Linked DNA regions of Homo sapiens. The protein of the gene in region 1 interacts with the protein of each later gene in a pairwise test. Each region holds a gene or a part of one and is shown in the gene's direction. Other genes may lie near its edges. The genes, in order: SDCBP, ZSCAN23, CUTC, HPRT1, CDA, NT5C2 and ZCCHC10.

Region 1 (3,500 bases):
TGTCAGAGTGATTTTGGCAAGTTTGTTTAACAGTTACAAATTACATTACCTTGTCATCATCGATTTATGTCAGTGATAAACTGTGCTATTTTCATAATTTCTGATATTTTAAAAGTATTTAGCATAAACCCCTTCCTATACTTGCTGCAATGAAGATAAAGATGATTTCAGTGGGACATGCTTAGTATTAATTTTTTAGGTGTTTTTCTGATATGTGACTTTTATATGAATATGGGTAAGGTTTTTTCTTATGCAAATAAAATATTTTTACTTGGACTAATTAGTAAAAGAATAATGAAAATGTAAAATTTATTCATTTTAGAATGCACTTTGAAAATATTAATTTATTGTGGCAGCACTATGAAGTGCTGGTTATAAGACATGTAGAATGGTACTTCTACAATTTTTTTGTGATAGCCTTAAAAGTATTTAGAATATCAAATATAGTTTTGATTTGCAGATTTCCTTTGGAAAATGTATTGCTGATGTGTTTGAAATTAAACTTTCTTACATAAATCTTCATTGTTTTAGTTTCTTTTTGGAAGTACTGGATTTAGCTTATAAATTATATAAGAATATAAAGTAAGTATAGCATATTGTTAGAATTTTCTTCTTTTCTTTTTCAGGCTCAAACTGCTTTTTCTGCAAACCCTGCCAATCCAGCAATTTTGTCAGAAGCTTCTGCTCCTATCCCTCACGATGGAAGTAGGTTTATACTTTGAGTTCATTCTCTGTGAACAGAAATATTGTTATCTTCTTTTGCTCATATAAGGAATCCAAGATTTTTTTTTGGACAGGCTGCATAAAATTGGTAGTTAAGCTCAAATAGTTATGAATAAGAAAAAAAAGTTTACTTCAAAAAATAACCCTTTTTCTAATTAAGATAGTGAACTGTGGATATGGGGATGTATTTCATGGCTTAATGAAAATTAATTTTAGACTGACTTGTAAATCCCTAACGTGGCTGATTCATTTATGAATGAATTATATATATGAATTCACATATGAGAACTATATGAATTCACATTTAAGAACTATCATGCTGCTGCTGTTGAACTTTCTGAATTGTCTTCTGTCTTTCCTATGGGAGCTTCTGAAATTTCCAACCACCTCCTCTTTGGGAAGCCTCCTAAATCTTAAGGCCTTTATTCATTCTCTGTATCCTGTCTTTGGTCCCTTTTTCTTCAAGGTTCAGAGGGATTCAGGACAGAGCTCCTAAATACTATGACTTAAGATACAAAATAAGTGTTAAATAAGTTTTTGTGGCCTGTCATTTTGTCTTACAACAGTTTATAACATTGTGCCTCATAGAAAATTCATTTTAAGTCACAGATAATTTAAGTCTCATGTAAAAAAGAGCTTTTGGAAATAGTATATAACTACTAATAAGTGAAATAATGTTAATATTTAAAAATACCATTTCCAGGATTTCATTGGAATGTGGTTAAAATTATTAAAATGATAAGACACTAAATAAATTTACAAGCTTCCAAAAAAAATTGTTCATAAGAATCATTCCATATCCCTGTTTACAGAATGAGTTATAAAGTAGCTGACTTGACAAATAGATATTTTGGTCAGTTGTTCTGAATTGGAGAATCAGTGGCATTCTTACTAAATTCCTAATCAAGTAAGTTTATTTTAAGAAACAGGAAAGGCAAGATAGTTTATTTGGAAAAGTTATTTCTACTTTTGAGTGTTTAGGAATCTCTGGTTGTTTCAGTTCAGATGTCTTCATATTTTACGAATTTTAAACATTTTCTGTATTTTCCATTTCTCATTATTACAGAGATGGGGAGATGCCTTTCCAAATTGCTACTTTAAATTCATTCTAGATTTTATAACTTAAGTGTAATTTTGTTAATACGCAGAAGCCCATAATGAGAGAAGTTTTCATTTTGTGTATTCTGTAAGTGCTTTTTAATTTATTCATTTACTTTTTAGATCTCTATCCCAGACTGTATCCAGAGCTCTCTCAATACATGGGGCTGAGTTTAAATGAAGAAGAAATACGTGCAAATGTGGCCGTGGTTTCTGGTGCACCACTTCAGGGGGTATGTATAGTGTAATTAATTTTGATTTATATAAAATCATACTTTACATGTTAGTATAAGCTTTCCTCTTTGTGGCTAACTCACAGATATACTACTAGCATTGAACCTCACTTCTCAGAAATTTTAGACTTCCTTTTGGATATCATTTCTTATATAGTCTACTTCATTTTGTGCTACACTGTTTTGAGTTTATTAGGACTTAGATTCAGATACCTTTTACTAGTTCGTTCTCCTTTGTCTTCTGCATTTAGTCAGTTACTAAGTCCTATTGATTCTGTTTCTGTTTCTTGTATTCATTTTATCTGTTTTTTATCCATTCTAGTCCTACTATAACCATATTCAGGGTTTCTATACTTCTAGCCTTCATTATTATAGTACTCTCTTAAATTTCCTCTAGTAACTTATTTCAGACAGTACTAAGCCGCTGCTAAGTTAATCATTCTGAAATACACATATAGGTCTATCATATCTTTGTTGCTCATAATCTTTTTTTTTTTTTTTTTTTTTTTTGAGGCATAGTCTCACTTTGTCACCCAGGCTGGAGTGCAATGGCGTGATCTCGGCCCACTGCAACCTCCGCCTCTTGGGTTCAAGCAATTCTCCTGCCTCAGCCTCCCAAGTAGCTGAGACTACAAGCGCGCGCCACCATGCCTGGCTAATTTTTTGTATTTTTAGTAGAGACCGGGTTTCACCATGTTGGCCACGCTGGTCTCGAACACCTGACCTCAGGTGATCCACCTGCCTCGACCTCCCAGAGTGCTGGGATTACAGGCATGAGCCACTGTGCCTGGCCTTTGCTCTTAATCTTTTAACATTCTTTTTGAAATTCAAAGCTCCATGTAATTAGACTCCAGAGTCTAGCTTAATTATAATGGGTCTGATAACCTTTTATTAAGGTTATTGCTATGACCATAGCACTTTGTACCACTTATTATAATTGTAGTTAAATCTGTGTCTGTCTTGTTGCCATATCCCAATGCATATACAGTACCTGGCATTTATGTATTTACCAAATATTTATTGAAAACTTGCTTGTGTTAGTGGTGATGCAGTTGGGAAAACAAATAATAGTAGGTATTTTAAGAGGTTGAAAAATTGAAAAAAACATAAATGGACATAGATGTAATTGCAGATAGCTAGCTGCTTCTCCTAGGACTGGGATAACACAGGAGAGAGATTGGAGTTAGCAGAACCTAGAAGCTTGAGGAAGAGCCCCACGGAGCTGGGACTCAGACCTTGGATGAGGGGACACTACTAGTGCCTCTGAGGGGTTGTAATGAGGCTGGTTCTGGGAGTGTCAGTAAAAGTTGCAGACTGGAACCAACTGCTGCTGCCAGTGTAAAGGGCCAGGCTTACACAGTACTGACAGGAGCAGGAGGCACACAGGAAGGAATGAGGTGCTTGTCATTCCAGTCACTGACAAACGAAATTATAATTTGCACAGTT
Region 2 (3,500 bases), on another chromosome or scaffold:
ATTCAGCAGATCATGTTTCAAGCCATGATGATCTCTTCCCTGGATGATTATCATAGCATCCCTCTCTGCCTCCACTTAACCCCAAGGTCATTGACACAGCGGCTAGAGTTATGCTTTTGTGTTAAATGGAAGTAAAATTTTGTTACCCCTTGGCTCAAAAATCCCCAGTGGTTTCCATATCTCATAGAATACAAGTTAGAGCCCTTACCACTGCCTTTCATGATCAGTTCCCAAGCTCCCTGCTTTATCTCCTGTTACTTTCCCTTTTGTTTTCTTTGTTCCAGCCATTGTTCAACTAGCTATTACCTGAAGAATCCAGGTGTGTTCCCACCTGCAAAAATTTGCACTTGGCAGTTACCTTTGCATGGAACAGTCTTTCTCCAGATAGCCATGTGACTTGCTCCTCACTTCCTTCAGGTCTGTTCAACCATTACCTTATCAAGGCCTTCCCTGACTCTATAAAATAGCAACCTTTCTTTCCCCTTACTCTCTCTCTCCTTACCTTTATTTTCTCTATAGCATTTATCACTACTTCACAAATACTTAATTATTATCTGTTTCCTCTGACCCGTTTTCCTCATCCTGGCCCCTCTTTTCCCCAACAGAAGTTAGTGTTGTAGCAGTGGAGACTGTAAATTCTGATGTCAGATTTGTTGGGTTTGAATTGCAGCTTCACTGCTTACTATCTGTAACTGACTTGAACTTTGGACTAGTAACTTAAACTTTTCATATCTCAGTTTTCTCATCTGTGATATGGGGGTAATAATAGCACCTTATTCATGGTTGTTTTGAGGATTAAATGGGTTAATATATATAAAGCATCTGTAACAATACCTGGCACGTTAAAAGCACTATAAATGTCCGCTATTATTAATACTGTTATTAGGATGTAAATTCCATGAGACTAGGGACTTCGTTATAATTGCAGCTGTATCCCCAGTGCCTAGAACAGTACATGGAATATGGTAGGCTCTGAATATATATTTGCTGGTAGGCTCTGAATAAATATCTGCCAAGTGAATGAATGGTGTATGAAAAGTTATGACAGAAAAAGATAGTATGGTAGTCACAGTGGTGGTGAGTCGCACCAAGAAAAGTGGAGGAAGGCTGGGCGTGGTGGCTCACACCTGTAATCCCAGCAGTTTGGGAGGCTGAGGCAGGCAGATCACGAGGTCAGGAGTTCGAAACCAGCCTGGCCAACATGGTGAAACCCTGTCTCTACCAAAAAAATACAAAAATTAGCTAGGCATGGTAGCGGGTGCCTGTAATCCCAGCTACTCAGGAGGCTGAGGGGAGAATCATTTGAACCTGGGAAGCAGTGAGCTGAGATCGTGCTGTTGCACTCCAGCCTGGGCGACAGGGTGAGATTCCGTCTCAAAAAAAAAAAAAGTGGGGGAAAACATGAATTTGCAGATTCTGTCTTTAGAGGAAAAAAATCCTCTGTACATTTCCTGGGGTAGTGATTACAGAAGGTAACCAAACCAAAGATGTCAGAACTTTATGGAGAGGATTATGTGTGCAGGTTATCCGGAAGGATGCTGTCCCATGCCAGTAGTTTGTTTCCCCTTTGATAAATATAACCAATAATCACAATATGAATCTAATTTTTCTTCGGGTTGTAATGTGATCAGTGTTCACTTGTAATTTAAATACCTGATATGGTTTGGCTGTGTCCCCATCCAAATCTCATCTTGAATTATAGTTCCCAATTTCTCATAATCCCCATGTGTCGTGGGAGGGACCCGGTAGGAGACAATTTAATTATGGGGGCAGGTACCTTCATGCTATTCTGGTGACAGTGCGTTCTCATGAGATCTGACGGTTTTATAAGGGGCTTTTCCCCCTTTTGCTCGGCACTTCTCCTGCTGCTGCATGTGAAGAAGGACATGTTTGCTTCCCCTTCCACCATGATTGTAAGTTTCCTGAGGCCTCCCCAGCCATGCTGAACTGTGGGTCAATTAAACCTCTTTCCTTTATAAATTACCCAGTCTTGGGTATGTCTTTAGTAGCAGCTTGAGAACAGACTAATAAAATACCCTATTCTTAGTTATTTAATTTCACAATGCATGTCAACACCTTAAGAATAGTGTAGGGTTGCTGGGCGCGGTGGCTAATGCCTGTAATCCCAGCACATTGGGAGGCCAAGGCGGGTGGATCATCTGCGGTCAGGAGTTCGAGACCAGCCTGGCCAACATGGTACAACCCTGTCTCTACTAAAAATACAAAAATTAGCCTGGCATGGTAGTGGGTGCCTGTAATACCAGCTACTCAGGAGGCTGAGGCAGGAGAATTGCTTGAACCCAGGAGGCGGAGGTTGCAGTGAGCTGAGATTGTGCCACTGTACTCCAGCCTGGGCAACAGAGCAAGACTCCTTCTCAAAAAAACAAAAACAAAAACAAAAAACAACAAACAGAATAGAGTAGGGTTATTTTTGCAATGGATTACAACAATTTTACTTAAAACAAAAATATTTTATTCTACAGGTTATTATTCATTTGTGGGTCATAAAATCTATGTGGTGTGTCACAACCCACCACATAGATTTTATAACCCACAAAATCTGTTCCCAGGCTTTTTTGTTTTGTCTTTTAATGAAATAGGTTTAAAAATAATTGTATGTCACTATATAGAGCAAGGATACATAGTGTTTTGTGAAATTATTATTTTAGGTATTTGTGTATCTCATAAATGCACAAACATATATACATATGCATGTGTGTTCTGGGTTATAATATAAAATATTTCTTAATAAGAGTCCTGGTCAAAAAAGTTTGAAAGTCTCTACTCGAAGATGGTGCTTAGAAATCACTGGGTCATATAATTGTTTTTCTTTCAGAAAATTTTCTTCATTAATTACTATCCTGGTAAAGATTGCTCATAAGTTTGTTTGTTTTTGTTTTTGTTTTTTTGAGACAGAGTCTTGCTCTGTCGCCCAGGCTAGAGTGCAGTAGTGTGATCTCAGTCCACTGCAACCTCTGCCTCCCGGGTTCAAGCGATTCTCCAGCCTCAGCCTCCTGAGTAGCTGGGATAACAGGCGTGTGCCACCAAGCCCAGCTAATTTTTGTATTTTTTAGCAGAGACGGGGTTTCATCATGTTGGCCAGGCTATTCTCGAACTCCTGACCTCAGGAGTCATAGACATTTGTCTTTTTATTAGCAGTAATTTTATTTTACATAAAATTGCCTACTCTCCACCTTCAAGTAGCTTCAAAGAGAAAAAGTTTCAAAGAAATTAAAGGGCAAGAGAAAGGTCAAATTCTACTCCTGTTTTAAAGTACTGGAACCAATATTTCCGTCATTTTAGTATCTCTGAGCCTAGACCACTGCAGTCAACTACTTTCTGATTCTTTTGCCTTAGCCTTAAACCACTAGGATATTCATTTAATCATACAATAACATAAGAAAAATAAGTGTTACCACTTTGGAGTTTACTAAGTAGCCAACTTCTTTGTGCTCATTATCCTCGTTTTATCTTTGTATCAACCTAGAAAGATAGGCAGT
Region 3 (3,500 bases), on another chromosome or scaffold:
AGGGTAAATCCAGTCACTGTTACCCTGTCTTGGCCAAAAGCAGAAGTCTGTGTATGAATTGTGGTCTCCTAAGTTATGCTACTCTGAGGTTGATAATAGCATTATTTAATGTAAAAAGTTTGTATACACAACAGCCCTTTGGAATCTTCACATGAAAAGAGGGCATTCCTGGCCATTCTAAAATCCCTAGAGCATGTCTGTAAATTTGAGTACAGTCTGTTTTTGTAACACCAATTATGATTCATTGCTTAGTATTGGACAACTGCTATCCTATGCAAAATTGGAGTTCTTTTAGCAAGAAAAAAGAAAGAAATTCATACTGGGTAAACAACTGATGGGGCCTGTCACAGCCTTATACTATTGATGGTTTATGAGCTAGCCACTTATTATGGCATATTTAGGTACTTTTATGCATAGATCTCTGCATAAAATCACAAATAAGTAGAACTTTGCTCCCTTTCACGTATCTTGTTTAAAAAAAAAAAAAAAAGGTTTTGCTAAATGTCTTTGCCCATTAAAGGAATATGAACTTTGAAGCTATTTAACCATCTCTCCAGTAGGTTTTAAATAGAGCTGTAATGAATTAGAAAGAAGAAATTGGATCTTGGGGAATAATGTACTGGCAGAACATCGAGCCTGGTAGTTATTGCACTTTCAAATGTCACCTACCAATAAAAGGGTTCTGAGTCATAAGGATTTTTGTTGAGTCAACTGACAAGTGCTTTTAAATTGTAGCATCTTCTGTTTTCTAAATCGTTCTATTTAACCCTTTGCTATTACTTACCTTCTACCATATATACATTTTTCTTCTCAGTGTCTGTCCTACCTTTTAGAGCCATCTTTGTCTGGTAAATGACCAATAATATATCATTGGCTTTTAGCTCACATTTGAATTTTAATCTGCTTTCTTTTCTTGTAGGTGTCCTTCAAGTAGTGAAGCAGAGTGTTCAGATCCCAGTTTTTGTGATGATTCGGCCACGGGGAGGTGATTTTTTGTATTCAGATCGTGAAATTGAGGTGATGAAGGCTGACATTCGTCTTGCCAAGCTTTATGGTGCTGATGGTTTGGTTTTTGGGGCATTGACTGAAGATGGACACATTGACAAAGAGCTGTGTATGTCCCTTATGGGTAAGAATTTGTATCTAAGACGTAAAAGCCTCTAATGATAATTGTATTTATGCTCACAATATAGAAAAACAACATCACAAAACTGACTTTGCGGTCATAGCTACAGACACTTATACTAACCTAAGTATTTCAAATAGTAGTTATTTAGATGTTTGGGGTGGGGTGTATGTGTGGCAAAGCCTTCTTAACTCTCCTCAATTGCTATAGATTAGGCTCCGCTACTGTTCCCATAGAATAGAAATTTAAGGGAAATTTACCATGGTTCCTTTAACCACTGCACCAAGAACTTCAAAAGTATTATAGTTGGTGAGGATGGACCACCAAGTTGGAAGATGCAAAGAGGACAGAAGCAAACTACCTATGTTACTAAACCAAAGTACTTATTGAATGACCTCAGAGGGACAAGTATTAGATGTAATGCTGCCCTTATAGTTGTCAGATTAAATGGTTTTCATTTGGTGATAAGCCACGACCATTTTTTTGTATAAAAATCAGAGATTTGTGGAAAGATAAGACTTTTGAATTTGTAAGGCTGCCATTTTATTATTATGTCAGTTTACTGTCTTGTTAGGCGAAGAAAGTATTAAAAAGTTTCAGCTAACATGGAGAATTCTATATATAGTAATCAGTGATGACATCTTCATTCATGTTGTTATATGACTTTCTTTTTATAGCTATTTGCCGCCCTCTGCCAGTCACTTTCCACCGAGGTGAGTCATTTTCATTTTAAAAGTTCTATTGAACAGTGTTAGTTTTCTAATTTCAACAACTGCCACCACCTTTTTATGGAACACAATTCTGTAGTGTTCCAAGGTTACCAATTGGTTTTTTAGATCCTAGGACTAAAAGTTATAAAAGTAGAGATGTGCAATTTCTAGAAAATTTGAAGCCTTAGTTATGAAAAGTTGTTAAAAGTGGGTGTAGGTGGTGGTGGGATATAAGAGAGCGAGGGAGAGAGCAAGTATTGCCTTCAAGTGTGTGTACCTATCATAGCATTCCAAGCAAGAATCCTGAGACTCATTTTAACTGAGACTGTATTAGGTCATGTGCAACCCCAAAAGAATAAATTGTTGTGGCTGGTGAAATGAAAGGTACTGTCTATCTTAAGCCAGGCAAAACCATCCCTGGGGCTAGCAGTGAGGTGGGGTTTCACAGATAGAGACTTCTTAAGGGGAGAGAAAGTTGGGTATCTGGAGAAGAATTGGGTCTTATTAGGAAGGGAGAAAGGAGAAACAGATGCAATCTAGTGTTGACTATCTAGTCAATGAACAGATGTCCACAATAGTATACAAAATTATTTTTCATTATAGCTTGTCTGCACCACAGTGATTTTTTAATGTGATACTTTCTTGTAAAGAAATATTTCCTGTAAAAAATCAGGTAGATATAATTTTTTTTGTTTGTTTGTTTGAGACGGAGTCTCGCTCTGTCGCCTAGGCTGGAGTGCAGTCGCACGATCCGGCTCACTACAACCTCTGCCTCCCGGGTTCAAGCAGTTCTCTGCCTCAGCCTCCCGAGTAGCTGGGATTACAGGCGCCTGCCACCATGCCCAGCTAATTTTTGGATTTTTAGTAGAAACAGGGTTTCACCATCTTGGCCAGGCTGGTCTTTAACTCCTGACCTCGTGATCCACCCGCCTTGGTCTCCCAAAGTGCTGGGATTACAGGCGTGAGCCACCACCCCTGGCCAAAAAATCAGGTAGTTATAATTTCTATACTCTTAGGCTACACCTTGGTAAAATGGAAGAACAAGTATCTATTTTGCCTTCAGAGAGCACTGCCATTGCACATGAAAAGAAGTCTACAGTCAAAAAAAATTTTTTTACTTCAAATTTCTGTTCTGTTCTTTATTCCAATAGGTTTAACAAAAATATTTTCATATTTTCAAAATTTGTAGAATTTTTGGGTTCCACATTTTTCTCACTAATGTATTTAATGAGATATCATAATATAGTTTTAGTGGTGAGAAGGTGCTGCCACCAAAATAGGGAAATCCTCTGTGGTAGATTTAGTTGCCTACATACACTAAAGGGTGAAATGAAGGGGCCTGTCCCAGAGGACCACTACCACCTAATCCACTGCAGGCTAGAGCTTCAATGTCATGTAGCAGTATGAGAACCAAAGCAGAAGTAGATTTTCTGTTTTCAGTTTCCTGATACCACTTTACTCTTTGAGGGCTCTGAGGAGGGGAGAAATCTCTTAGAAAGTAGGATGGGGCTGGGCACAGTGGCTTACCCCTATAATCCTACCACTTTGGGAGACCGAGGTGGGTGGATCACAAGGTTAGGAGATTGAGACCATCCTGGCCAACATGGTGAAACCCCGTCTGTACTAAAAATACAAAAATTAGCTGGGCGTGGTGGCGCATGCCT
Region 4 (3,500 bases), on another chromosome or scaffold:
AACCACATGCAACACCAAGTCACAAATAATAAAACAGATGTAACTTATATTCATACAGAAAGTTGGGCACTGCCATTGCCTTGTTGGTTTACACGGCTGTGCTAGTTCAGTAGCAGAAAGGTGCTGGTCTCCTTTACTCAGTTTACAATCTAGGCAGTAGAATGTAATCACTGCTTTAAACTTGATACTGCTTAGGGAGAGAATCATTGGTGCTGGGTAACTTTGGGTTCTAGGTTTACTTTTTGTGTATATATAACTGTTTTTGGTAAATCACAAGTTTCTGGGCTTGTCGAATTAGATTTTGTTACAGATTATGAGCTTTATTATGCTATACAGTTAGTTGTATGTATATATGCCTTTCCCACTAGATTTTAAGCTTTTTTTTTTTTTTTTTTTTTGTGACGGAGTCTTGCTCTTGTCGCCCAGGCTGAAGTGGAGTGCAGTGGCACAATCTCGGCTCACTGCAGCCTCCACCTCCTAGGTTCAAGCGATTCTCCTGCCTCGGCCTCCCAAGTAACTGGGACTACAGGCACGTGCCACCACACCCGGCTAATTTTTGTATTTTTTGTAGAGACAGGGTTTCGCCATGTTGGCTAGGCTGGTCTTGAACTTCTGGCCTCAGGTGATCCACCCGCCTCAGCCTCCCAAAGTGCTGGGATTTACAGGCATGAGCCACCACGCCCAGCTATAAGCTCTTTAAGGGTTGTAAATTTATAATCATTCTTTTACTCTCCTGCAAATTCTGTTGCACACTGCCTTAATCAAGGTAGATGCTGAATGCATTTTTGTATAATTGAATATGTTGCAATCCCCAACTCTCTCCAACTGTTCCTGTCAAAGCAGCCACTGGATTGTTAACTAATCCATATTAGATGGGGTTAATTAATATCAGATGGGACAAGTAAGGGCTAATAAGATTATAGGCCACCAAGTAGATTTCTGTCTAGCTCTTATAGAGATTGAGTTTATTGGACCTGTTTGATAGGAAGTTTTGGTGTTTGGGATGATTAAAACTGAAGTTCCTATTTATTGAATTATACCTATTTATATTATTTCATATCAGTGGTCCACATGCAAGTGAGGCTTCTGAGACAGAGTTTGAGTTCTCTCTTCAACTACCATAACACTTAACCTGTATCTTTTTTTTTTTTTTTTTTTTTAGACGGAGTCTCGCTCTGTCACTCAGGCTGGAGTGTAGTGGTATGATCTCGGCTCACTGTAACCTCTGCCTCCTGGATTCAAGCAGTTCTCCATGTCTCAGCCTCCCTAGTAGCTGGGATTACAGGCCTGTGCCACCATGCCTGGCTAATTTTTTTTTTGTATTTTTAGTAGAGACGGGGTTTTACCACGTTGGCCAGGCTGGTCTCGAACTCTTGACCTCGAGCGATCAACTTGCCTTGGCCTCCCAAAGTGCTGGGATTACAGGCATGAGCCACAGCGCCCAGCCGTCTTTTTTTTTAAATAGCAATTTAACACTGTTCACAGTTACTCATGTACATGTCATGCCATCTATTACACTGTAAGTTCTGTGAGGGTAGCTGTATCAAATTTATCTAACTCTCTCTAGTATGCATGACATAGTAAGTATTCAATAAATATTTGCATATTAGTGATAAGGATACAGGTTCTGAATAGTGGGTCCTTACCATTTAAGAATTAGTATTTGATGGCCGGGCGGGGTGGCTCACGCCTGTAATCCCAGCACTTTGGGAGGCTGAGGCGGGCGGATCATGAGATCAGGAGATCGAGACCATCCTGGCTAACATGGTGAAATCCCGTCTTTACAAAAAAAATACAAAAGAATTAACCAAGTGTGGTGGTGGGTGCCTGTAGTCCCAGCTACTGCTTTGTGAGGCTGAGGCAGGCAGATCACCTGAGGTGGGAAATTCAAGACCAGCCTGACCAACATGGAGAAACCCCATCTCTACTAAAAATACAAAATTAGCCGGGCGTGGTGGCGCATGTCTGTAATCCCAGCTACTCGGGAGGCTGAGGCAGGAGAATGGCGTGAACCCGGGAGGCGGAGCTTGCAGTGAGCCAGGATCGCGCCACTGCACTCCAGCCTGGGCGACAGAGCGAGACTCCGTCTCAAAAAAAAAAAAAAAAAAAAAATTAGTATTTGATATTTGATCATTAAATATGAATTAAGAGGACTTAGACTTTTTGTTAAATGTCAAGCTGGGAAAAGTTGTCATTTAAATGAATTGCCTCTTATTTAATTTCGTCTGATGATACATTTTGTTTTTATTTTGTAAAAAATTATTTTTTTTCTTTTTGGAGACAGGGTCTTGCTCTGTTGCCCAGGCTGGTCACAAACTCCTGACCTCAAGCAATCCTCCTGCCTTAGCCTCCCAAAATGCTGGGATTACAGGCGTGAGCCACCTCGCCCGGCCTTGTATTATGATACATTTTGAACAACTACAAGTAGACTTGGTATAATGAACCTGCACGTACCCATTGCCAAGTTCTGACAACTGTCTGTCTATAGCCAATTATGCATTTCTTAAATTAGAACCCCCCCAATATACCCAAATATATATATATGTGTGCATATATATAGTAAGTTGTAACAAAGTTGTGAATTCATACCTGAAGTATCTCAAGTGATGCAAGTTTTATGAATTTTTGTTTATGCCTTTTGGGAAGAGTTGTATTGACAAATTTTTTATGCTTAAAGTAAACCATAAATCAAAAAAATAAAATCTAGGATGCAATAAAACAAAACAACTTCTTGACATAAGTATGGTATGTAAATCTGTTTTGATTGGAAATCAATTTGTTATATTGCCAGAATTCCTGTTTTAGAATACATCTCTGCTGATCTGTCTGTATTCTTAGACTGCATATCTGGGATGAACTCTGGGCAGAATTCACATGGGCTTCCTTTGAAATAAACAAGACTTTTCAAATTCTTAGTCGATCTGCAGAACCTGTAGCCAGGCACTGAACCATTTTGATAGATGCAGTAATCGTTGCAAGTGTATATTTCAAGGAGTTCTGGCTGGGTCCTAGTTTATGCTTGTGGCAGAAGCAGTGAGTAACTGGGAGGAAGTTGGTGAGTAAGCTTCAAGGAAGAAGTCATTTTTAGTACTCTGGATCTTCCTGATTTTAAAGCACTACAAAATGGTGCATTTTCATTCTTGTCAAGTGATAACAGATATATTCTGATGAGCCTGAAATGAATATATATTGTATCATTTTTATAATATCTAGCAAGGTTTGTATTTTCCTAGAACTTGAACTAAATTTCAGTTCATAAAATTTATAAAATACTTAGTTGTTGTAAAATATTTTTGGAATGTTCACATAGGTGACACACAAATGTCCCATTTTCATTCTTTCTATAGTAAATATGTTCTGATATGTGAAGGTTTAGCAGATGCATCAGCATTTAATCCTAGAGGATCTGGCATAATCTTTTCCCCCAAGAATAGAAATTTTTTCTGCTTATGAAAGTAGTACATGTTTCTTTAAAAACAAATCAATATTGACTTCTGCCT
Region 5 (3,500 bases), on another chromosome or scaffold:
CAGTTAGTCCTCTCCACTGTCACTCAAAAGTGGCTCATTTTGTGACCAGCCTAGGCAACAGGGTGAAACCCCATCTCTACAAAAAATACAGAAATTAGCCAGGCGTGGTGGCACATGCCTAGAGTCCCAGCTACTCGGGAGGCTGAGGCAGAAGGATGGCCTGAGCCCCGGTGGTGGAGATTGCAATGAGCCGTGAGCACGCCACTGCACTCCAGCCCAGCCCGGGCAACAGAGCAAGACTCTCTCAAAAAAAAAAAAAAAAAAAAGGCCAGGCACGGTGGCTCATACCTGTAATCTCACTCAGCACTTTGGGAGGCTGAGGTGGGTGGATCACCTGAGGTCAGGAGTTCAAGACCAGCCTGGCCAATATGGTGAAACCTCGTCTCTATTAAAAATACAAAAATTAGCCAGGCGTGGTGGCAGGCGCCTGTAATCCCAGCTGCTCAGGAGGCTGAGGCAGGAGAATCGCTTGAACCTGGGAGGCGGAGGTTGCAGTGAGCTGAGATCGCACCATTGCACTCCAGCCTGGGTAACAAGAGTGAAACTCCATCTCGAAAAAAAAAATTGTCTCATTACATAGGCAAGCTTTACTACAGTCCCTCGACTAAATAGCTGAGTTCGAATATAATTCATACCTGAAATGGTGCATTTGCAGTGGGAGGAGGTTAGGAACATGGAGAGAGTGTCGTATTTCTTCAAGTATATGGACAGAACATTCCTCACGTGATTCTCAAACGTGGTCCCAGAACTGCAGCCTCAGCAGCTCCTGGGAACTTGTGAAAATTTGAAATTTTTGAGCTCCAACCCAGCCCAGACCTATTGAATCAGAAACTCCAGGAAAGAGGCTTACAAGTGTGTTTTAAGAAGCCCTCTACTCAGGAGGCAAAGGCAGGAGGATTGCTTGAGTCCAGGAGTTCAAATTCCAGCTGGGCAACTAATAACAAGACCCTGTCTCTAAAAAATATAAAAATAAATAAATTTAAAAAGAGAAGCCCTCCAAAACATTCTGATGCCCACTTGCTTGAGTGTGAGAATACTGCTTTAATCTTGCTAGGATCCCTCAGAAAAGAGAGTGGGTGCAGTGCTTTCTGGCATTATTCTTTTCTCTGGGTGGCTGGGCCCAAATAGCCTCATTGTGAGCTTCTTTCCCTGTTGATGTCTTTTTTTTTTTTTTTTTTTTTTGAGACAGGATCTCACTCTGTTGCCCAGTCTGGAGTTCACTGGCACAATCTCAGCTCACTGCAGCCTCGACCTTCCTGGCTCAGGCGATCCTCCCACCTTAGCCTCCCAAGTAGCTGAGATCACAGGCATGCACCACCATGCCTAGCTAATTTTTAAAATTTTTTGTAGAGACTGGGTTTTGACATGTTGCCCAGGCTAGTCTCGAACTCCTGGACTCAAACAATGCACCCACCTCAGCCTCTAAAAGTACTGGGATTACAGGCGTGAGCCACCACACTCAGTCTTGCTGATGTCTTAATAACATCTGACCGCAGCCCTGCCTTAAGCACCAAACCACCTCAAAACATGGCCTTCCTTCCTGCAAGGCCATAGAGAATAAGAAGAGTCTGGCCGGGCGCCGTGGCTCACATCTGTAATCCCAGCACTTTGGGAGGCCAAGGCAGGTGGATCATGAGGTCAGAAGATCAAGACCATCCTGGCTAACATGGTGAAACCCCATCTCTAATAAAAATACAAAAAAAATTAGCCGGGTGTGGTATGCAATCACAGCTACTTGGGAGGCTGAGGCAGGAGAATGGCGTGAACCTGGGAGGCGGAGCTTGCAGTGAGCCAGGATCGTGACACTGCACTCCAGGCTGGGCGACAGAGCGAGACTCCGTCTCAAAAAGAAAAAAGAAGAGTCCATCGTATCTCACAGGCCAGGATGCATGTTTTGGCCTCCTGCCACCAGCCTTCACTTTTACCTTCTGTAAAATGGTGTTCTAACAGTATTTACCTTACCCAACAGTTAAAAGGATTAACTGACCTTATGCAGGTAAAGCACTCCACAGAGTGCCTGGCCTATGAGTGCCCAGTAAAAGAAAGCAATTAGTAATACTGGCACTATGATCGTAGTATTATTTGGTCCTATCTTATTATTATGGATTTCTAACTTAGCACCATCCCAATCTCTCTCATGTATGTTTTGAAGTAAGCAAAGGCAATAGCAGAAACAGAATTGGTTTGCCTGGTCAGAAGACAGCCTGCTTTCTGGGCTGAGAGAAGCAAAACAAAATTGCACAGCATTTCAGGATGCAGTACGTGGGCAAAGGCTTCCTTCCTTTTTTTTTATTTGCCTTTTTTTTTTTTTTTGAGCTAGAAAATTCAAGGAAATTACTTGAATTTGTTACAGGCTCCAAATACAGTTATTCCTCTGCGTCTTAAGCATCTAGAACTGAAGTGGAAAATTCCACTCTTTCAATAATGGTTAGCCATCTTAGCTCAGGCCATGCTGTGGTTTGAAGGTTTGCCCCCTCCAAAATGCATAAGCGTACTTTGGAGGGCTTCTCTTTTCAAATTTATTATTTATATACACTTTTAGAGACAGGGTCTCGCTATGTTTAATTGCCAATGCAACAGTGTTGGGAGGTGGGACCTAATAAGAGGTGTTTAGGTCATGAGGGCTCTGCCCGGTGAGTGGATGAATACCGCTATAAAAAGGGCTTACAGTATGGATTCTCTCTCTTTCACTCTCCTGCCACATGAGGAATAGTGTTCCTCCCCTCCAGAGGATGCAATGTTCAAGGCGCCATCTTGGAAGCTGAGACTGGGTCCTCACTAGACACCAACTTGCCAACAGCTTGACCTTGGACTTCCAAGCCTTCAGAATTATGACAAATAAATTTCTGTCCTTTATAAATTACCTAGTCTGGGATATTACGTTACAGCAGCACAAAACGGACTAAAACAGGCTGCTATAACAAAATACCATAGACTAGTGGTTTAAACAGCAGACATTTATTTCTCACAGTTCTGGAGGCTGGGAAGTCCAAGATTCAGTTCTTGGCGAGGGCCCTCTTTCTGACTTGGCCATTTTCTCACTATGCCCTGACAGGATGGAGAGAGAGAGTTTAAGAGTCTCTTCTTCTTCTTATAATAGCACTAATCCCATCATGGGGGCTGCCCCCTCACGACCTAATCTAAACCTGGTTATCTCACAAATGCCCCACCTCCTAATAGTATAGCGTTGAGGGTTAGGACTTCAACAGAAGAATTTTAGGGAGACACAAACATTCAATCCATAAGAGAAACTGAGAGCCCCATGACTTCACTGTTCCAGGCCCAGGACATACCACAACACATGTTAGAGACAAAATCTCTGCCCTCAGAAAGTTTGTAATATAATAGGAGGAATTAGATAATAAAGACATTTATTTCAGGAGACTGTTAAGTGCTATGAAGAAAATTAAAGCAGGAGAAATGGATACAGAGAGTTGGAGGCAGTAGTGGGAGGAAGCCATTTTAGATAGGTGATCGGAGAAAGCGTCTCTGAGAAGGTG
Region 6 (3,500 bases), on another chromosome or scaffold:
CGTGTTTCTCTAATACACTTAACATGATAGAAGCTTGGCAGTTTCCATTTCTGGATTTGATAGGGAATATTTAAGATTAAGAAAATGATGTTTGAGATGCTATCATATATATCCCACATACAGCATCTAATGGAGAAAAATATAAGCCTTCTCAGTTGTCCAAGAAAAAAGACTATGTTTTAGAATGGTACCAGCTGTGTAGTAAGAAGAATGTTTTTTATACCTTGTTTGATTAAGCACTTATTCCTTACAGAAAACAATTATGATTTTCTGTCTGGACGGAGTCAATATTTTTTAGTTGCTTTAGAATTAGTTTTTAAGATTTTACTCACTTTAGCTATATTAGGACATACTTTGAGTTGGTACAAAGCTTGAATTAAATGAGGTTGGTTCATGATGATTAAATACTACTACATAAAATTATTGCCTGTATTACTTTGCATTATCAATAATGTCTTCATTTTCACATAGGGGACTTGTCTTTGACACACTGTATGGAAATCTTTTGAAAGTCGATGCCTATGGAAACCTCTTGGTCTGTGCACATGGATTTAACTTTATAAGGGGGTGAGTACAGAGAACCTTTAGCCTCTTTCTAATGTTAAAGTCAAACAATGTGAAGATGACATCATCTCCCCAGATGTAATATATTTCCCTATTACTTTTCATCATTAAAGAGCAAATTCCCTTACATAAGGTTAGTTAACAGTTATTTATTAGGCAGTTGGAACCCAAACTGACATATAGTTAGCAATTACATTTTGTTTAAATTAAGTGCCTTCCAATTATACAGCATACAACAAAACTAATCTTAAAACTTGCCCAGAAGAACTTTAGTAGTTTTGACTTATTTGAAATTCTAAGATTTTTATTTTCTTCTTTCTAATACAGTTCTCAGGTAGCTGTTCAGAAGAGGTATGTATATAAAAATGCTTTGAAAAAATTTTAAACTATAGCAATTTAAATGATTAAGAGATTTTTAATAGCCAATACGTTTTTTAGATTCTAATGAATCTAAACTTTGAATCCTGACATTTGATTGTGTCATTAAAAAAATGTAAACATAAGGTTAAAGTGAATATGTGCTAATAATATTTTAAACAAATAAGAATAAGCTTTATTTTCAAAATAAAAATATTTCCACTATTGTCACTAATTTGAACTTTTTACCCTAGTAAACAGCAGATGAAATTTAGTATCTACTATTTTTTTGTGAAATGTCCCGATATTTTCAAATCATAATGCCACAATTTGACAACTTCTGTAGCTATAGCTTTACTGTTATACATTTTCTCTACTGTTATGCCACCTTATTTACTATTGACATTGTATTAAGGTCAGAACAACAGCTCGTAAAACCAGAATAGGATGTGTGTCAGTCTCTTATGTAACTTTTCCATTTACTATTCATTCTTGATGGCAGAATAGGAAAAACACCAGGCTACATTGAAATGTTTAAAAAGACAATGTCTTTTTTTGTGATAAGAGGCACAAACCAACTGTAATTGTACCAGAGCTTCCTTTAGATTTGAGGTCACAGGATGCCCCTTAGAATTGAAGCATCTAAGACTCTTTAGTTGGCATTACTGACATTACACAGGCTCAGAGATTTCCATGTATACATGAGAACGGTGTGAAGTAAACACCCATCTTGACACATCTGAGCAGGCCAGTGATTACATCCACATTTCTTTCACTGTTTCTTTCATGAGGGGGTTTGTTCAGGATCCATGAAAATATCAGGAAACAGGATTTAGAATATGAAGTAATTACAGGTTGTACTAGTAACTTAAGCTATTTTATACACAGATATTGTCATCATAACTCAGAATCTCAATGAAGATGAACCAGGGTTCTATTATGTCTAAAAAGGAATTTTTGTATTATAAGGGAGGGGTAGGCAGAGAAGAAAAGAGAAGCAGTTGGATAAGTTAGTACTACGATCAAATTTCCAACTCAAGATCCACAGACTTCCTCTCTTCCCTTAAATAAGCCAATAAAGTTTCCACATAGCTCCTTTGCTAATGCATTTAATAGTGTTTCAAAAATAAGTCATTTATGAGTAAATGCAGAATCATTCAAATAGCACTTAGCACTGTGCAGTCTTTAGAGTTAAACAGAAAAGCTGGCCAGGCACAGTGGCTTACGCCTATAATCTCAGCACTTTGGGAGGACAAGGCAAGAAGACTTCTTGAGCCTAGGAGACCAGCCTGGACAATAAAGTGAAACCCTATCTCTACAAATATCAAAAATTAGCTGGGCATGGTGGTACATGCCTTTGGTCCCAGCTATATGGGAGACTGAGGCAGGAGGAGTGCTTGAGCCCAGGAGGTTGAGGCTGCAGTGAGCTGTGTTGGTGCCACTGTAGTACAGCCTGTGTAACAGAGCAAGACCCTATCTCAAAAAAATAAAAATAAATTAATAAAATTAAAATTCCCATGAAAAGAAGAGACTGAAGATAGAGGGAAAGAAAGTTATCGAAGCTATTACAGTGGTAGACAAGGCTGGAAAAGAAGGACTCCATCAGGCTTTGCTAATGAGTTAGGACCTTATTTTTTGATAAATTTTTATTCTGTGGGTCACAGAAAGTTAGTAGTAATCTGTGCTGTAACTGTTTTCTTCCCATTCCAAGTGTAGCATTTCTTTTATGATATATTACCTCCCCCAAATTGATTTTTATTTTAAATATATACTAGTGTGATTTGACACTGAAGTTTACAATGTAATTGCTAACTATATTTATAAATCAATTTGGGTTCTAACTGCCTAATAAATGTTAACCATCTTTATGTAAAGGAATTTTTCTTTAATGATGGAGGGAATAGGGAAGTATATTGTATCTAAGGAGACAGTGTCAGCTTATTAAATCTAACTGAAGAAAGTATATTTTTACTGTTACCTTCCACCTTACTTTTATTAAAGAAAATCTTGGAAAGCTAGAAGATAAGATACTCTACAAAGTTATTCATTATTGGGAACTCTCATCTCAGAAGAGTGACTTAAGACAGGGAGCTAATGTGATTTTTATATGTCTAACTAGAGTTTATGCCATTTGTAGTTAACAAACCCAGGCAGGAATTAATCCAGGTCACTCTGAGTGTGAGCTTTAAATTTGATTTCCTTTATTTACATTGTTAATCTCCATGTATTCACTGTCAGAACTGTGCATTTTTATATTTTAGTATTTTTCCCTTTGAGTTTCTCTGAAATGTTTTCTTCTAGAAGTGTTTTTGCATCTTTAACAAATTCTGCTTCACTGGCTTTTTTCTTTTAAACCTTGAATTTTCTTCATGGTTCTGTTCTGTCTCTTCTCTTCCTTCTCTGCACACTAAGTGGTTTCATCTCCTCTAATACTTTTCATGATTCCATCTAGTATCTGTACGTAGATGATCTCAGTTATCTCTCAAGGCTGAATCTCTTTTAAGTTCTTGACCTTTGTTTCTAATTGCCTAATAAAAATCAGTTTACTTCAAACTTAGTATCACTAAAATAGAACTACT
Region 7 (3,033 bases), on another chromosome or scaffold:
AGTAGTTAAAATAAAGATGATGAAACAGTCACCAGCTAAGCTACGTGAGGTTTAAATAGACCCAATTGTTATACTGCAGCTTTATTCTGACATTATTCCCTCTGAAATGTAATATAGTAGATATGCTTATCTTGAATTCCATCCAAGAGAATTAAGTTGCTGAAGTAACAATGCCTTGTAAAGAGAGGGACTGTGGTTTACAACAGGCAATCTCCAAAATATCAAACCTAAGGATAACATGCTAGCAAAGCTTCAATATATAAGCATATATATGGAATCATATGAAATCGCTTTTGGCTGGGCGCGGTGGCTCACGCCTGTAATCCTAGCACTTTGGGAGGCTGAGGCGGGCAGATCATGAGGTCAGGAGTTCGAGACCAGCCTGGCCAACATGGTGAACATGATGAAACCCCGTCTCTACTAAAAATACAAAAATCATCTGGGCGTCGGTGTGCGCACCTGTAATCCTGGCTACTTGGAAGGCTGAGGCAAGAGAATTTCTTGAACCTGGGAGGCAGAGGTTGCAGTGAGCTGAGATTGTGCCACTGCACTCCACACTGGGCAACAGAGCAAGACTCTGTCTCGAAAAGAAAAAAAAAATGAAATTGCTTTTAACATTCTATTACATGTCACCTTCCCATGTATATAACTCTGTATTGTCTAATAGGTCTAAGAGTGTAACCAGTTCCAGTAGCAGTAGCAGTGACAGTTCTGCCAGTGATTCTTCATCAGAGAGTGAAGAAACATCTACCTCTTCCTCCTCAGAGGACAGTGACACTGATGAAAGCTCCTCTAGTTCCTCATCCTCAGCCTCCTCCACAACCTCTTCCTCCTCCTCTGATTCAGACTCAGATTCCAGCTCTTCCAGTAGCAGTAGCACCAGCACAGATAGCAGCTCTGACGATGAACCACCAAAGAAGAAGAAAAAGAAATAGAGTTGCTCCATTCATATTGGACTGATGGACTGAAAACATTGATGTGATTCTTGAAAGGGAATTTAGAATATGTTAAGGCCAAGTAGGTTAACTGGTGAACATTTCTAGAATTCAAAAGTTTCTAAATGTTTTACATTGTAAGAGCATAGAGAATATTAATAATGGCTTATAGAGAGAGACTTTTATTTGAAGGGTGAATCTTGTTTTTTTTATCTTTAAAATATATCTCTAGAACTTAAAGCTGAAATCTGCAAATCTGTTTGTGTGATGAAACTATCTTTTCTCTCTGTGAAATAAATGCCATACTTTGTTATATATGTTAGTGGTATGTATCAGACATATTTTCAGGATGGTGCGTCAGGATATCTGGCAGTGGATTTCTAATGCTTTTGGCTGTATGTTATGTAAGATTTAATATGTTGTTACTGTAAGCTTAGGAGTTTTCCTACTATTAATAAATGTGCTCTATTTTTACATTTATGTTCAGAAAGTTATCTGACTTTTTGTCCTAAGTGGTATGTTCAAGGAGCCTATTAATATATTTATAGTTTTTGAATGCTGTAAGTTTCAAATTGCTGTGTTACGTCATTCATTTTCTTCTGGTTCCTTAAGTTTTTCAAGTTATCCTTTTCTGAGGAAAATTATTCTAGAGGAACCTAAAAAGGGACAAAAAAATTGAAACTTCTTAGGAGTCTAATCTTGGTGCCTTCTGTTAAAAGTCAGTGTATCAGAAAAGAAAGCAGCCATGTAAGAGGCTAACTTAAATAGAAGTGCTAGAAATATCTTTGTGTATTAACATGCAATAAAAGGTACCATTCAAAGCAGGGGGAAAGGTAGGAAGAAGAGGTAATTTTTACTGAAAATTAGGGCAATGTTGGTCGCCTTTTATTAAAAGCTTTTTTTAAGCTTTCATAAAGATTGCTTTTTGCTATTTTTGAAAATATGGTATTATAGTTTGTATGGTAACTGGTCATATATGACAGTCTACTGCATATATATGAATGACTAGGATTAATCTGGTGTGTTTACATAGGATATACATAGTTGAAATCTAGCATGAAAGGTTAAAAAGGAGATACTGCACAATATTTCTTAAAAGTAAAATGCTGTTATTGTGATGAGTCTTTGGTTTAACATCACAGTATTCTGTGATGTCTTTTTAACTTTTTGGAAAGAGGTATCATTTGTAGAAAAAATTTGATTTGGGTTAAATATAGGTTTTTAAAACTATAAATGTTGTCTTTTTTATATTTTTATGAAAAAGCAGTAGAAAATTACTTTTGAAGAAAACAGGCTATTTAAATATTGAAATATATGTATGTTGTGAGTTTAAGGAGCCTGTAATTGTCAGTTTTACAAAACCATCTGTGTTCAATGGTTGTAAATAAATTCTCAAAACATCATTTCAAAGGCTGCCTACAGAATATTATCACTTGACAGATAGAGTTAATAAATTACCAATCAGGCACATTTTATAATGTTTGTCTCTGTAAAGGTAATATTAGCAGTTAAAGAACACGGATGAGAAAAGAATGTGTTACATAGGTTGCATCACTTGCAGTTAAATAAAACTCACAATTTGTGCTCACAAGCTTAAACTTCTGTTATCTCTTTAGTGTTTTATTTAATGTCAGTTATTCCATTTGAGGTGTAAAGACATTTGAACAAATTCCAATTTTAAAGTTTTACTATTATGGCTGTTAAAAGTATGACTGCAGAGGTACAGAGAGCAGGAACTCAGTTCTTCTAGTCACACATTTCATTCAAAATGACAGAATCAGGCTGGTCACAGTGGCTCATGCCTGTAATCCCAACATTTTGGGAAGCCAAGACGGGAGAATCACTTGAGTCCAGGAATATGAGACCAGCCTAGACAACATAGTAAGACTCTGTCTCTACAAAAAATTAAAAAATTAGCTGGGCATGGTGATGTGCCCCTATAGTCCCAGCTACTCAGGAGGCTGTGGCAAGAGAATAGATTGAGCCCAGGAGGTTGAGGCTGCACTGAGCCATGAGTGTGCCACTGCACTACAGCCTGGGTGACAGAGTGAGAAAAAACAAAAAACAGAATCAATGGCAAAGTGGAGACTAACTTCTA

What was found.
Region 2: the proteins of SDCBP (region 1) and ZSCAN23 interact in binary tests that used the Homo sapiens proteins (3 or more experiments, as listed by UniProt).
Region 3: the proteins of SDCBP (region 1) and CUTC interact in binary tests that used the Homo sapiens proteins (3 or more experiments, as listed by UniProt).
Region 4: the proteins of SDCBP (region 1) and HPRT1 interact in binary tests that used the Homo sapiens proteins (3 or more experiments, as listed by UniProt).
Region 5: the proteins of SDCBP (region 1) and CDA interact in binary tests that used the Homo sapiens proteins (3 or more experiments, as listed by UniProt).
Region 6: the proteins of SDCBP (region 1) and NT5C2 interact in binary tests that used the Homo sapiens proteins (3 or more experiments, as listed by UniProt).
Region 7: the proteins of SDCBP (region 1) and ZCCHC10 interact in binary tests that used the Homo sapiens proteins (3 or more experiments, as listed by UniProt).

Annotation. Positions count from the first base shown.
Region 1 is NC_000008.11:58,570,261-58,573,760, forward strand, and holds part of SDCBP (syntenin-1), read left to right. Parts: intron 1-626; coding exon 627-705; intron 706-1,944; coding exon 1,945-2,054; intron 2,055-3,500. UniProt on the Homo sapiens protein: Multifunctional adapter protein involved in diverse array of functions including trafficking of transmembrane proteins, neuro and immunomodulation, exosome biogenesis, and tumorigenesis.
Region 2 is NC_000006.12:28,436,992-28,440,491, reverse strand, and holds part of ZSCAN23 (zinc finger and SCAN domain-containing protein 23), read left to right. Parts: exon of another isoform or gene 1-417; intron 418-3,500. UniProt on the Homo sapiens protein: May be involved in transcriptional regulation.
Region 3 is NC_000010.11:99,742,234-99,745,733, forward strand, and holds part of CUTC (copper homeostasis protein cutC homolog), read left to right. Parts: intron 1-919; coding exon 920-1,129; intron 1,130-1,803; coding exon 1,804-1,839; intron 1,840-3,500. UniProt on the Homo sapiens protein: May play a role in copper homeostasis. Can bind one Cu(1+) per subunit.
Region 4 is NC_000023.11:134,466,665-134,470,164, forward strand, and holds part of HPRT1 (hypoxanthine-guanine phosphoribosyltransferase), read left to right. Parts: intron 1-3,500. UniProt on the Homo sapiens protein: Converts guanine to guanosine monophosphate, and hypoxanthine to inosine monophosphate. Transfers the 5-phosphoribosyl group from 5-phosphoribosylpyrophosphate onto the purine.
Region 5 is NC_000001.11:20,595,597-20,599,096, forward strand, and holds part of CDA (cytidine deaminase), read left to right. Parts: intron 1-3,500. UniProt on the Homo sapiens protein: This enzyme scavenges exogenous and endogenous cytidine and 2'-deoxycytidine for UMP synthesis.
Region 6 is NC_000010.11:103,102,773-103,106,272, reverse strand, and holds part of NT5C2 (cytosolic purine 5'-nucleotidase), read left to right. Parts: intron 1-471; coding exon 472-567; intron 568-891; coding exon of another isoform or gene 892-915; intron 916-3,500. UniProt on the Homo sapiens protein: Broad specificity cytosolic 5'-nucleotidase that catalyzes the dephosphorylation of 6-hydroxypurine nucleoside 5'-monophosphates.
Region 7 is NC_000005.10:132,996,485-132,999,517, reverse strand, and holds the end of ZCCHC10 (zinc finger CCHC domain-containing protein 10), read left to right. Parts: intron 1-667; coding exon 668-935; 3' UTR 936-2,533; downstream 2,534-3,033.